2 linked regions of the Homo sapiens genome follow. The protein of the gene in region 1 purifies or fractionates together with the protein of each later gene. This does not show direct contact. Each region holds a gene or a part of one and is shown in the gene's direction. Other genes may lie near its edges. The genes, in order: PAFAH1B1 and ASNS.

Region 1 (3,883 bases):
GGAGCCATTGTGATTAATGCTGGGAAAAGAACACTAAAATGTGCTCGTAGACAAGTTGTTTTTATCTCTGAGCTTTTATTTTTATCTGTAAATACAACAAATAATATTCCAGTCCTAAAATGGATACTTCATAGGCAAAGTTAGAATAAGTAAATAACATTGTTATGAGTTCATCATATAAAGCTCTTAGAAAAATGCTTAGCACATAGTAGATGCTCAATAAATATTAGCTTTTATTAATATTATTATTACCATATATAATGTGGTTTGGAAAGAACTTACTAAGAGTAGCAGCCTTAGAGGGACCAAGACAAATTCACTGCCCTTCTCTAATTAGTAGAGGACTCTGTCACCAGATACAAATCGAAATTTTTCTTTTTGTTAAAGAGTTAAGGCAATTGTACTGAATTTTTCTCAATTTTTAGTTTCCTCACATGACTTAGATTTTGATGCTGTACAAAATAAATAATTTTCATTTAAATTTGACAAATGCTTTGGAGATTACTGAAATTTTTTCAAGTATCCTACATACATAGTTGCAAAATAAAGGCAGTTTTTTAAAATGTCACATGCTATTTTTATTGAAATCTATCTGTACGTAACTACATGTTCTTTTTCAAGGTTATGGAATTAGAATCAAAGCTAAATGAAGCAAAAGAAGAATTTACGTCAGGTGGACCTCTTGGTCAGAAACGAGACCCAAAAGAATGGATTCCCCGTCCGCCAGAAAAATATGCATTGAGTGGTCACAGGAGTCCAGTCACTCGAGTCATTTTCCATCCTGTGTTCAGTGTTATGGTCTCTGCTTCAGAGGATGCTACAATTAAGGTAATTTTTTGTTAAAAGCAGACTTAACGGGAGGCTGAAGCAGGAGAATGGCATGAACCCGGGAGGCGGAGTTTGCAGTGAGCCGAGATTGCACCACTGCACTCCAGCCTGGGCGACAGAGCCACACTCTGTCTCAAAAAAAAAAAGCAGACTTAATAGGGTGAAGAAAATTAAAAGATCCTGAAAATGAGGGCCTATGAAGAGGGACAGGAGGTACTCTGAAACGTGTGATTTGGTTCTAAATCTTAAAAGACAGAATTGGAATAAAATATCATTGTGGCTCCTGAGAGGCATGCTGCCAGGTAAGTTTGATGGTGAATTTGAGAAAGTCGGGTGTCACTAACTGAGTTGATGTCAGTACATCACCTTGTGCTTGAACAATTTTTGTTCTTGGAGAATGAAAAGTGTGTGTCTTACCTTTAAACGGAGGTTATGTGTGAAATACTGATTGACAAAACTAGTAATTGATAGGGTGAATCTATACTGCAAAAGAATTCAGTAGAGGATTCATTTAAATTGGGCTTTCCTTGATGTATTTAAAATTGGCTTTCCAGGAGTGTGGGAATATACAAGCTTTTCATTTTATAAATTACGTATTTCATTAAAAAATTTTTTTCACAGTAAAAATATTATTACCTTTTAATGTTGTGCTTTTTTAATTAGGAAAAGAGTTGTTTTTAAGTTGCCTTTGTTCCGGACACAATAAAATGACCGTTGTATAAACCACCTACAGAAAGATAAGATAGTTGCAATATAGGTAGATTTAGGTAGATGCCTCTATCCTAAGGGTTATTTCAAAGTAAGTTACAGATATTAAGTTTCATTTACAAAAGTATAACCAATCGGCCGGGCACGGTGGCTCACGCCTGTAATCCCAGCACTTTGGGAGGCCGAGGCGGGTGGATTGCCTGAGCTCAGGAGTTCAAGACCAGCCTGAGCAACACGGAGAAACCCCATCTCTACTAAAATACAAAAAAATTAGCTGGGCATGGCAGCGTGCGCCTGTAGTCCCAGCTACTTGGAAGGCTGAGGCAGGAAATTCGCTTGAACCCAGGAGACAGGTTGCAGTTAGCCAAGATCGCTCCACTGCACTCCAGCCTGGGCGACAGAGCGAGACTGTCTCAAAAAGGTAGTTACAACTAACCAAATAGTAACGACGGTTTGGCCTTACTACTAACAGCAGAAGAAATAAACACTGAAATTATGGGCCGGGTGTGGTAGCTCATGCCTATAGTCCTAGGACTTTGGGAGGCCAAGGTGGGAGGACTGCTTGAGCTCAGGAGTTAGAGAGCAGCCTGGGCAACATAGCAAGACCTCGTCTCTACTTAAAATTAGCCAGGTATGGTGGTGCATGCCTGTAGTCCTAGCTACTCAGGAGGCTGAGATGGGAGGATCACATGAGCCTGGGAGTTGGAGGCTGCAGTGAGCTATGATTGAGCCAGTGTACTCCAGCCTGGGCGAAGAGTGAGACCCTGTCTTAAAAACAAAAAAATTGGACTGGGCACGGTAGCTCATGCCTGTAATCCCAGCACTTTGGGAGGCCAAGGTGGGTGGATCATGAGGTCAGGAGATCGAGACCATCCTGGCTAACATGGTGAAACCCCGTCTCTACTAAAAAATACAAAAAATTAGCCGGGAGTGATGGCGGGCTCCTGTAGTCCCAGCTACTCGGGAGGCTGAGTCAGGAGAATGGCGTGAACCCGGGAGGCGGAGCTTGCAGTGAGCCAAGATCGCGCCACTGCACTCCAGCCTGGGCGACAAGAGTGAGACACACATACATATATATGTGTGTCAAATTGTCAAGGTATTTTACCTATTAAATAAGAATTCCCAGTGATGATAAGATTTTGATAAAGTAGTCATTCTCATTACATATGATACAGTCTTACGGGATATCAATTTAATAGAGTATATGAAGGCTTTAAAAGTTTATACTTTTTGACCCACTAATTGTTTCTCCCCATTACTGTCTGACCTAGGTATTATAAAATGAGGACAGAATTTTTTTATATTAAAAAATGTTCACTATAATGTTTTCTATAATAGTGATTTAGCCAGCAATTAGAATTTTTTTTTTTTTTTTGAGATGGAGTTTCACTCTTGTTACCCAGGCTGGAGTGCAGTGGTATGATCTTGGCTCACTGCAGCCTCCGCCTCCCAGGTTCAAGCAATTCTGCCTCAGCCTCCCGAGTAGCCGGGAGTACAGGCGCCCACCACTGTGCCTGGCTAATTTTTTGTGTTTTTTAGTAGAGACGGGGTTTCACCATATTAGCCAGGATAGTCTCGAACTGACCTCGTGGTCCGCCCGCCTTGGCCTTCCTAAGTGCTGGGATTACAGGCGTGAGCCACTGCGCCCGGCCATATTTCATTTTTTAACTCAAAATGACATATGCTCTTGTTCATTTGCTATTCGTGAACAGTTAACATCTTCTGAAATCTTTCCTTGGCCCTTTAGATGTCTGAGTTCTGATGGTCTAGTAGGATCGAGTATTCATCCATTGTTCCTCAAATATTCTACATACAAATGCCTGCTATAGCCCTCTGAAGCTCCTTCCCTTCCCCTTCCCTTTCCCCTTTCTTTCCCTTTCCTTTCCATCTCTTTCTCTTTCTTTCCTCTTATTTCTTCCCCTTAAGTTTCCTTATTTACATGTCATTCCTGCTCTGAGACAGGGAGCGGACTATGTCTTGTGACTTTATATACCTTATCACTATTACAGTTGGTTATGTGATAGAAACCTTATAAATGTGGTTCTAGAGATAGATTTTAATAATTGCAACATTAGTTTTCCCTGTAGAAAAAAAGACCAATTTATACATGAGATACAATATTTCTAAAATAGTTATCCTTTGTTACTTGTTCGGTTAGTTACTCAGTAAGGTGCCAGACTGGCCTGCTGAGTGCAAATGTGAAACAAGAAAGGAGTGATGGAGTTGGTGTTAACCAATTTTCTGTTCACTTGACAGGTGTGGGATTATGAGACTGGAGATTTTGAACGAACTCTTAAAGGACATACAGACTCTGTACAGGACATTTCATTCGACCACAGCGGCAAGC
Region 2 (3,955 bases), on another chromosome or scaffold:
TCATCTGTAGTTCAAAGTGCCTATCCGTGTATTTATCTATTCATCCTGATGTATTTATTGAGCAACTCTTTTGTGCCAGGCACTGTGCTGTGTTGCGGGAAGTCAGGGACCCCAAACGGAGGGACCAGCTGAAGCCATGACAGAAGAACGTGGATTATGAAGATTTTATGGACATTTATTAGTTCCCCAAATTAATACTTTTGTAATTTCTTATGCCTGCCTTCACTGCAATCTCTAAACATAAATTGTAAAGATTTCATGGACTAAACTTATCACTTCCCTAATCAATACCCTTGTGATTTCCTATGCCTGTCATTACTTTAATCTCTTAATCCTGTCAGCCGAGAAGGATGTATATCGTCTCAGGACCTGTAATAATTGCGTTAAGTACACAAATTATACAGCATGTGTGTTTGAGCAATATGAAATGTGGGCACCCTGAAAAAAGAACAGGATAACAGCAATTGTTCAGGGAATAAGAGAGATAACCTTAAACTCTGACCGCCGGTGAGCCAGGCAGAACAGAACCATATTTCTCTTCTTTCAAAAGCAAATGGGAGAAATATCGCTGAATTCCTTTTCTCAGCATGGAACGTCCCTGAGAAAGAGAATGCGCACCTAGGGGTAGGTCTCTAAACTGGCCCCCCGGGGCGTACCTGTCTCTTATGGTCGAGACTGCAGAGGTGAAATAAACTCCAGTCTCCCATAGCACTCCCAGGCTTATTAGGAAGAGAAAATTCCCACCTAATAAACTTTGGTCAGACCGGTTGATCTCAAAACCCTGTCTCCTGATAAGATGTTATCAATGACAATGGTGCCAAAACTTCATTAGCAATTTTAATTTCACCTTTTGCATCTCCTTGAAATGTCTGCCTTTGCACACTCTCCCTGAAAGAGGAGGGCAAGGGAGCCAGGATAGAAAGTGAGGTGGAGAAGTGTAGAGCTCTGGACGGACAAGCAGGAGATACGCAGCACAAGGAAGCACACTAGGTAACACACCAAGCAGGGGAACCTGTCTTTCACTACATAGGCAAGATGCTACGGGAAATGGGCTCTGGGTTTACACAGATTATGACTCAGTTCTCTACTGTTGTGAAGCTGTGTTTGGATAAATCCCTCAACTTTTCTGAGTCTTATTTTTTCATTTGTAAAATGTAGATAGAAGACCTACTTTCCCACATTGCTCTCAGGTTTAAAGTACGTCAATTAGGATACAGCAAAGTCTGTTTGATACTGAAAACTTTCCAGCAACAATGAACCTTAGAACAAGTCATCTCTCATCTTTGCTCTTGCCTGTAACTACTAAGCGACTACTCCATCTTCTGTTCTTAGGGATTTTAAATTGTTGACGTTTTTGATTTAGTCAGGAATGCGTTGTATGGGGATATCAAACCTGCATGCTCTCCAAGCATTGACTGTAGTCTGATCTTAGTAGGTCGTGCACATATAATTTTACTATTTCTCAATTTATTTCGGTGCTGATGTAATTAGTAAAATACGATTTAAGAGTGTTATGATACTTTTTAAAAATCGTGATGTCTTTTCTTCATCAAAGAGATACTTAAAAGCACATAATCATCTTGTGGAGGCAAGTTGACAAAATCCTTTTTGAGATTCTAAAAGGAATCTTTGTACTTAAAATGTTTAAGGACCACTGATGTATTTTGGCTTCATGTATCAATTAGATTTAGATTTTATTGTTTTAGAGATGGGGGTCTCCCTTTGTCGCCCAGGCTGGAGTTGAGCTCACCTCAGCCTCAAACGCCTGGGCTCAAACTATCCTTCTGCCTCAGCCTCCTGAGTTGCTGGGACTACCATGGTGTGCCACCAATTTTTATAGAGATGTGATCTCGCTGTGTTTCCCAGGCTGGTCTTGAACTCCTGGTTTCAAGTGATCCTCTTGCCTTGGCTTCCCAAAGTGTTGGGATTACAGGCGTGAGCCACCGCTCCTGGCCCCGATTTATTAATAGATCTTATAAGGACATTTTAGGCCTCACGCATCAGTTTCTTAGGACAAGCTTTTCTCTGCACTGCATAATAAATCAGACGGCAGTGCAACAAAAAAACGGTGATGATTTCCCGAAGAACAAACCAAGTTCAGAAGCCTCCCTAATTGTCAGAACAGCAGGTAGCCTGGGCGGAGCTCTGAGGCTATCCTTAAACAGGCGCACTGAGACGCAAGGCGCTGGAAACAAAAGAGCTCCTCCTTGCGCCCTTCCGCCGCCCCACTTAGTCCTGCTCCGCCCCGGACACCCCGCGGCCCCGCCCCTGTGCGCGCTGGTTGGTCCTCGCAGGCATGATGAAACTTCCCGCACGCGTTACAGGAGCCAGGTCGGTATAAGCGCCAGCGGCCTCGCCGCCCGTCAAGCTGTCCACATCCCTGGCCTCAGCCCGCCACATCACCCTGACCTGCTTACGCCCAGGTGAGCCGGGTCCTGCGCCCCGTGCCCTGCGCCCCGCGCCAGCATCCTCCTCGCGTGCCCTGGGGCTGCTCCGGAAGGAAGGGGTGGAGGATGCGGTCTTCAGCCTGGCACCCGGCAGACGCGGTTCGCGGGCGCCTGCTGATGCTGCGGCTCCTGCGGTAGGGAGGGCGGGGCGGACGCCTAGCGATTGTTACGCACCTGACAGCTAGCGGAAGGACCTTTCTGTCCTGGTTCCCTGAAGCATCGAGAGGGAACCGCGGCCGGCAGGCCGGACCGCTCCGGAGAGGAGGCAGCGGCAGTTTGAGCCCCTGTAAATGTTATATGTGTACTTTTTTTTACTATGTGGCGTCGAAGCCTGTGGACATTTTCGCGGTCCGGGTCCCTGCGGCGGACGGGTCGGATCGTGCTCGTGGCCAGGGCGCAGTCAGGTGTCGCGTGGTCCTGATCTAGGAAGAGACTGCGGCCTTATCACCGTCTCGGTGTCTGCTTTCACCTTCAACTGCCCCCCTCCTCACCTGGACCGCTCACCCTCCTCCTCCCCTCTCACCCCGCCATCCCCACCAGTCCCCACCTGTCTCTGTAGACTGCAAGACTCATCAAGTGACTTGCTGAGCAAACCCTGCCGAGAAGAGGTCTGTTTAGGGACACAGGCGACCAAGTACAGAAAAAGGCAAAAGAACTAGCATGCCTTTTTCAATGGCTGTCATTTTGCAGGGCTGGCTTCAGATGATTGTTATAGCTTTAAATAAAAAGGACAGTTTTCATCTCGGCCCGTGGCCTACATTATTTCTTTACTGTCCATTGCCCTGGGCGCTTGACTAATAATTTAACAGCAGTTTTTTTTTTTAAATTTTAAATCATGATTCATAGCATTGCTGTAAGAGTAATTAGAGGTAAAGTAGGGCTTGAACCTGTCTGTAGTTGGTTACTTACTGAGATCTTAATATAAAAGTAAAGGGAGAGGGTGAAGTTGTAAGTAGCACTAAGTGGAATAGAAATTAAATGCACTGAAACTGCCATGTCCAGTTCGGTAGGCGCTAGCCACCTGTAACTGTTGAGCACTTGAAGTGCTGGCTAGTCCTAACTGAGATGTATTGTGTTAAATACACTGGATTTTGTCGTTGGAGTAGGAAGAACAGTGTAAAATATCTGCTCGATAATATTTTATATTGATTACATATATGTTAAAATGTTACTATTTGGGACATACTGAGTTAAGTTTATTTAAAATTAATTTCACCTTTTTCTTTTAATGGGGCTACTAGTATATTTAAAATTACATATGTGGCTTACATATATATTTATTGGACAGCACTGTTCTAGAAGTTTAGGAAGAAATAAGAAAAATATTGAGAACAGGTAGCGGCAGTAGGAACTTTGCCCTCCTATAAGACTGATTCCAATAAAAATAATAGGTTATAGTTTTAATTGGCTTTTTCCTACTAGAAAAAATAAGTGTACTTTACATGCCTCTTTGTTCTCCCTTTTTCCCCTCCAGTTTAGTGGTTAGAATGTATTTATTATAGCAGGAT

Evidence for each region.
Region 2: the proteins of PAFAH1B1 (region 1) and ASNS fractionate together in Homo sapiens (co-fractionation; 2 studies listed by BioGRID). This does not show direct contact.

Annotation. Positions count from the first base shown.
Region 1 is NC_000017.11:2,666,371-2,670,253, forward strand, and holds part of PAFAH1B1 (platelet-activating factor acetylhydrolase IB subunit beta), read left to right. Parts: intron 1-621; coding exon 622-828; intron 829-3,792; coding exon 3,793-3,883. UniProt on the Homo sapiens protein: Regulatory subunit (beta subunit) of the cytosolic type I platelet-activating factor (PAF) acetylhydrolase (PAF-AH (I)), an enzyme that catalyzes the hydrolyze of the acetyl group at the sn-2 position of PAF and its analogs and participates in PAF inactivation.
Region 2 is NC_000007.14:97,870,819-97,874,773, reverse strand, and holds the start of ASNS (asparagine synthetase [glutamine-hydrolyzing]), read left to right. Parts: upstream 1-2,365; 5' UTR 2,366-2,423; intron 2,424-2,608; exon of another isoform or gene 2,609-3,055; intron 3,056-3,955.